Linked DNA regions of Homo sapiens: region 2 is linked to region 1. Evidence: fine-mapped expression QTL. A gene starts in region 1. The other region holds a variant in brackets. All regions are shown on one strand. Distances are from middle to middle.

Region 1 (2,912 bases):
AAATTATTTTCTATTTTATAAACGTGCATTTCCACATTTATGGTAGCAAAATTAAAGTACATTTGCCGAGAGATACTAAAGACAGCAAAACTTCTATTTAAAATTTTAAACACGAAGAAGAAATAAAGTCCCATTAGGAGTGTCTCTTCTATTATTGAAGGAAATTTAAAAAGATTCCTACTACAGAAATGGCTTTAAGAAAAGCAATAGGAAAGGTTATAAATTTGAAATATTCATAACTGTTCTAAAAAATACTTCATAATGATTGCTCTTTGTGCAAGAAATGTATCAAAGAGCCAGAGACCTCATCATCTAATTTCTTACTTTTTCTTAATTAACATTGTTCCCAGACCTCTGCTAAACTCCCGTGTTGAAAGGAAAAAAGTAAATACAGTACAGCAGGGAAAACTGGTTCCTTTCGACAAAACTGAGAGAGAGGCTTGAGCTTTTGTCAAACAGAAAGCACTTGATAAAAAACTATTCCTAAACTATTAGCAACTATATAGAAGCTTTTTATTTAACAGCATCCTCCTGGGAAACTGCGCTGGAATGTGCAGCGGTTCTGAAAAAGGCACAGATTTGGCTGAACTGTAAATATTAGGTGCACAGAGGCGAAGCCATTGTGTAGGGAGGGGTGGGGCAGGTAGGGTCCTGATTTCCAATGTTGATAGAAGGATTCCAATTTCGTTTGGTATTTATTTTTTTCTACTACAATTACAGTTTTGCTGAGAAAAATAAAATATTGGTTGTGCTTCCATCTGGGTTTCTAATTTTCAGTGTGTACAGACAAGAGAAGACCTCTCATTTACCCAAAAGAATCACCTTTCTGCAATCTCCAGTGCTACTGGACAAACAAACGAGCCCAACCCCACCGCCCACACCTCCCAAGCACCCGGCTCGCCGATCCCGCCTGCTTCAGGTAGCTGGGGTTTGCCCGGTACGCCAGCGGCCCTGAGACGATGTGTGCCCGCAGCACGATCGTGTCTGTTGGCATTTCTGGGTGTGGATGCTCCAAACCAATAAACCACAATACAGAACCCAAGCTTGGACTTTGAACCGAGCCCTTTTGCCTAGTTTGCTTTTTCCTCATCAAGCCAGGATCCTTGCCAACCCACCTCACAGCTTCTGCCCGGGCTGTGGCTCCCCTCCAGCCACCTGCGCGTGTTCGGGATAGAAGCGCGGTCAGGAGGGGAGCTCAGTCCACCAGCCACTCCAGGGAGAGACGGAAACTACAAATCCCATCAAGCCCCGCAGCCGGCTCCCTCCTCCTCCCTCTCCTTCCCCTTCAGCCTGCGGCCGGGCGGCGCTGGGCTTTTATCTGCGGACCCGCCGGGAGGGAGCCAGATCCCAGCGATCTTCCCCGACGGCAGCGCTTTACCCAGAGGCTGCCGGCGGCTCGTAGCTGGGTTCAGCTCTGCGTCCACGCCAGCCCGGAGCCCGGGGGGCAAGGGGTCTGTCCCGGGCGCAGCGAGAGGATGGTCATCCGCGTGTTCATCGCCTCTTCCTCGGGCTTCGTGGCGGTGAGCGCGGTGGGGGCGGGCAGTAGGTTGGGGTCGCGGGGCGCGGGTCCTGCGGGAGGCGCGCGGCGCTCGTCACTGCGCGTCCTTGCGCTCAGCCGGTCCGCCCGCGGGAGCCCGCGCCCGGCAGGTGATCCATCACACTCCGACAACAATGAAGAGGGCGGGGAGGAAAGGTGGGTGGGGGACCCCGGCCTCACCCAAATGCCCACCCTGCGTGGCCTGAAAGGCAGACAACGCGGCCTGAAAATGGAGTCCGAGGGAAGCCCCCAGCTCCTGTTGTGTGGCATGGAAATTTGGGGAACGGGTTGTTCAAGAGCTTCGGGGATCCCCCTTCCCCTAGTTTAGTTCTTCCCGATTTGGGACCTTCAGACTGGTTATGTTTTGCACGGGAGCCTTTTCTGCTGCTTTGGTTTGTTACCCTAGCTCCTGAATGAAGCAAGTTTAAGTGGGAATTGCTCTCTGTCCTCCCTTCCCCGCCAGCAAGTGCATTTGTTTAGTTTTATACCTGCGCAAAGAGAATAGTAAAACTAGGTTTGTCCTGTTGTGGTAGGATTGTTTGCTTTCACTGTCATTTTTTTTCTTAGGGTGCCATAAATATTTTTACATCTTTATGTAAATGTGTGTGTATGCACGCATTTTCTTTCCACCTGTAATGCTGTGGAAATTTTATCCTGGGGATCTATGAATTGTGGTTTTCTATTTAATTATTTTTAGCTATTCTCTTTGGTGGATGTTCTTGAATTTTTTTAGAGAAAAAAAATTTTTTTAAAGAAAGGAAAGTTAAATAGCTAGAGATGTCAGAATTTAAGGAAAATTCAGTAGTTAGTATATTTGACAGCCCACTAAGGGACATAGCACATGTGTTTTACATGATTATTGAGACTTGGTTTCCTTAACCAAGAGTTCAGCTATAGATTTAAGAGCCTCCTTTGTGACATATATAATCAAGTAACATCAAAAAGTGCATTGTAGATTGCTTAAATTTGGTCTGGTCAATTGTCTGCCCAGTAGCTCAGTCAGATTGTTCCAAAATTTGTTTCTTAAGTGGGTGGAGTGGAGGATGGAATAAAATATTGTTTGAAAATCCTTGTACACCACTGAAGTTTTTTATTTAAAAAGAAACCAACACGATCATACAAAGCCCCTCCACCCCCATTTGCACTAGAAACAATAGATGGGAAAATCCAACTTACACTTATGTGCAGTCATGTTGGGGTCCTCAGACTTCTGACAGTTTCTGGTGTTTCTAGCTATTTGGGTTGCTTAGTCATGCCTGCCTTTTGTAGATTTCCCCACTGAAGCCACACTTCATGTGTTTGCAAACTGGCACTGTTTCAAGGGTAGATTTGTTCAAATGCACTCCTTACTAAGAATGCTACAAAGCTCTTGGTT
Region 2 (2,912 bases), 63 kb after region 1:
TCACGATATTGATTCTTCCTACCCATGAGCATGGAATGTTCTTCCATTTGTTTGTATCCTCCTTTATTTCATTGAGCAGTGGTTTGTAGTTCTCCTTGAAGAGGTCCTTCACATCCCTTGTAAGTTGGATTCCTAGGTACTTTATTCTCTTTGAAGCAATTGTGAATGGGAGTTCACTCATGATTTGGCTCTCTGTTTGTCTATTATTGGCGTATAGGAATGCTTGTGATTTTTGTACGTTGGTTTTGTATCCTGAGACTTTGCTGAAGTTGCTTATCAGCTGAAGGAGATTTTGGGCTGAGACAATGGGGTTTTCTAGATATACAATCATGTCATCTGCAAACAGGGACAATTTGACTTCCTCTTTTCCTAATTGAATACCCTTTATTTCTTTCTCCTGCCTGATTGCCCTGGCCAGGACTTCCAACACTATGTTAAATAGGAGTGGTGAGAGAGGGCATCCCTGTCTTGTGCCAGTTTTCAAAGGGAATGCTTCCAGTTTTTGCCCATTCAGTATGATATTGGCTGTGGGTTTGTCATAGATAGCTCTTATTATTTTGAGATACGTCCCATCAATACCTAATTTATTGAGAGTTTTTAGCATGAAGCGTTGTTGAATTTTGTCAAAGGCCTTTTCTGCATCTATTGAGATAATCATGTGGTTTTTGTCTTTGGTTCTGTTTATATGCTGGATTACATTTATTGATTTGCATATATTGAACCAGCCATGCATCCCAGGGATGAAGCCCGCTTGATCATAGTGGATAAGCTTTTTGATATACTGCTGGATTCGGTTTATCAAATCTGTTTTTATAAACATCAGTCTGTCTTCACTTTGAGAGAATGATGGGGTAGAAATAGTGAGATTAGACAAAGGTTGATAAGTTGGGGTGCTGTTGCAGAAGTCTAGCTTAGATCAGGTTGGTAGAGACCAACGTGGAAAAATTGAGAGGCTTAAGGGATATATAAACTAGTGGTTGAGGGAAGAAAGGAGTCCTGTGATGTGTTGATTTTGGAGTTACAGGGCCCAGTAAATAGTGGTGCCATTTTCTGAGACGTCTAGTTTGTGGAGTGGAAGATCATGAATTGTCGTTAAGACCTGTTGTGTTTAAGAGTCTGTGAACAGTTAGTGACTTTTATGGAACCAGAGCTCAGAAGAGAGGTCAGGGCAAGAGATTGTGATTTTAATTAGGGCCATGGCTGTGAATGAGCTTCCCCAGGGAAAGACCTTCGACTGAGTAGAGGCTGAATATGGTATAGAGAGAACAGGTATACTAAGTTACATACAGTTGATATCTTAAAG[G/A]ATGGAACAAATCTAGCTGTAATTTAGCCCTCTTCCTCCTCTTACCACGTTCAGTATAGTCAACAAATTGTCAGGCAGAGAAAGTATGTTTTGAACAGAATTATTTATTGAACTCTCATGAGGGAATTATTACTCAACTCTTTGGAAATAGCTTCATTACAAAGAATGTAACATTTTCAGTCCATGAGATTTTGCCTGTATTTCATGTCAAACTTTGACCTGTTTTTGTGGCATAGTTAGGATCATATTTTGTCTTACAAGAAATTACAAATTTTCGTACAAATTCCATGAAATCTCTACATCCTAGAGCCATTAGGAACCTCCAGTTGCTCAGCTGATATCTTCTTTACTCAATGTTTCATATAGTTTCTCAGATATTACATGTTGAAATTGAACTCCAACCTTCCCTTCAGATTGTTTTTTCTCGTCTTTTTCATCAAGCCAGAAAGTTCAGAGCCACTTTAATTCTTATTTCTCCCTAATCACCCCCATCAAATCCACAACCAAGTATGATCACTTCTACCCCCAAAATGTATCTGCAGCCTGTCTGCTGCCCTCTGCCGTCAGCTCGGCTGCCACCATTGCTTACTGCAATTGCCAAAGTACTCCCCTTTTTCCCCTCCTTTCCTTTTTGCTGCCCTTTTTTTGAGCCATTCTCCGCACAGTTATTTAGGTATTTTCTTAAAAGAAACTAGATCATTTTGCTCCCTTGCTCAAAACCCTTATATGATTTCTTTTGGTACTTAAGATAAAATTCAAGATCATTTTCTTGGTTTACAAAGCCCAGCATATGTTTATCCCTGTCCACCCTGCCAGCTTCACACTTCACTAGTGCTGCTCCCTGCCCAAGAATGCTCCCATCCCAGTCCTTCACTTGGCTAACTCTATTCATCCTTCAGATGTAAGCTTAAATGCCAGTTTTCAAAGAAGACTTGGCCAAATCGCTCTTTTCAGACATGTTGCTCCTTCTTGGCTTGGTCAAGGAAGGCCTTTCTTTAGAGCTGATCCTAAATGACAGAAGGAGCAGCCTGTGAAAAACCTGAGGCTACTGCCTTCCAAACCACGAGACTCAATTGCTAAAGCTTTTGGAGAAGAGGATCTGTACACAGAACCAAATAATTCAAAGATTTTTTAATCAGACAAGGCATGCGTTGCAGGAAGCGAATCTCTACAAGTCTAGATGCCGTTGGCTTGGCTTAACAATGGATTCATTAGCGCTCAGTGACTCCAGCACACGTGGTGCCCCATACTTGGTTTCCTTTTGGGCAGGATGCACCCTAGAGTACAGAAAGTGTGAATTTCAAGGTCAGTGAAACATGAGCCCAAATATCAGTTCTCTCACTTATTAGCTGTCAAACTTGAACAACATATTTCTTTGCCTTGAGCCAGTCTCTAACCCGGCAGGCTGTGGTGAAGATTTAATAACATAACATTTATAAGACACTTAGCACAAAGCAAATGCCTAAAATGATTGTGATCATCATTTGCTTACATTATTTATCCTTAGGATAAAGTTATCAAATTACCAAATTTTAAGACTGCTTTACATATGATAAATGCAAACTTTTGAAAAGAAACAGTTGAACAGATTGACCAGAATTCCTTGATG

Alleles and levels. Positions count from the first base shown, and alleles are read on the strand shown. Sizes are in standard deviations (SD) of each study's normalised expression.
For the expression in prefrontal cortex of the gene that starts at base 1,343 in region 1, allele G in region 2 goes with a lower level than allele A (moderate effect, 0.53 SD a copy in BrainSeq).

The links. PIP is the estimated chance that this variant, and not a neighbour inherited with it, causes the effect.
Region 2: its variant is the best candidate, but not a certain one, in a credible set for the expression of SH3BGRL2 in prefrontal cortex (BrainSeq, PIP 0.53).

Annotation. Positions count from the first base shown.
Region 1 is chr6:79,629,987-79,632,898 of GRCh38, forward strand. It overlaps SH3BGRL2 (SH3 domain binding glutamate rich protein like 2), which reads left to right and starts at 1,343. Exons shown (of 4, transcript NM_031469.4): 1 at 1,343-1,520. The coding sequence starts at 1,476.
Region 2 is chr6:79,692,961-79,695,872 of GRCh38, forward strand. All of the region lies in intron 2 of SH3BGRL2 (SH3 domain binding glutamate rich protein like 2), which reads left to right. Among named protein-coding and RNA genes, the nearest start is that of SH3BGRL2, 63 kb to the left of the region's middle. The variant G/A (reference allele first, on the strand shown) is at 1,304.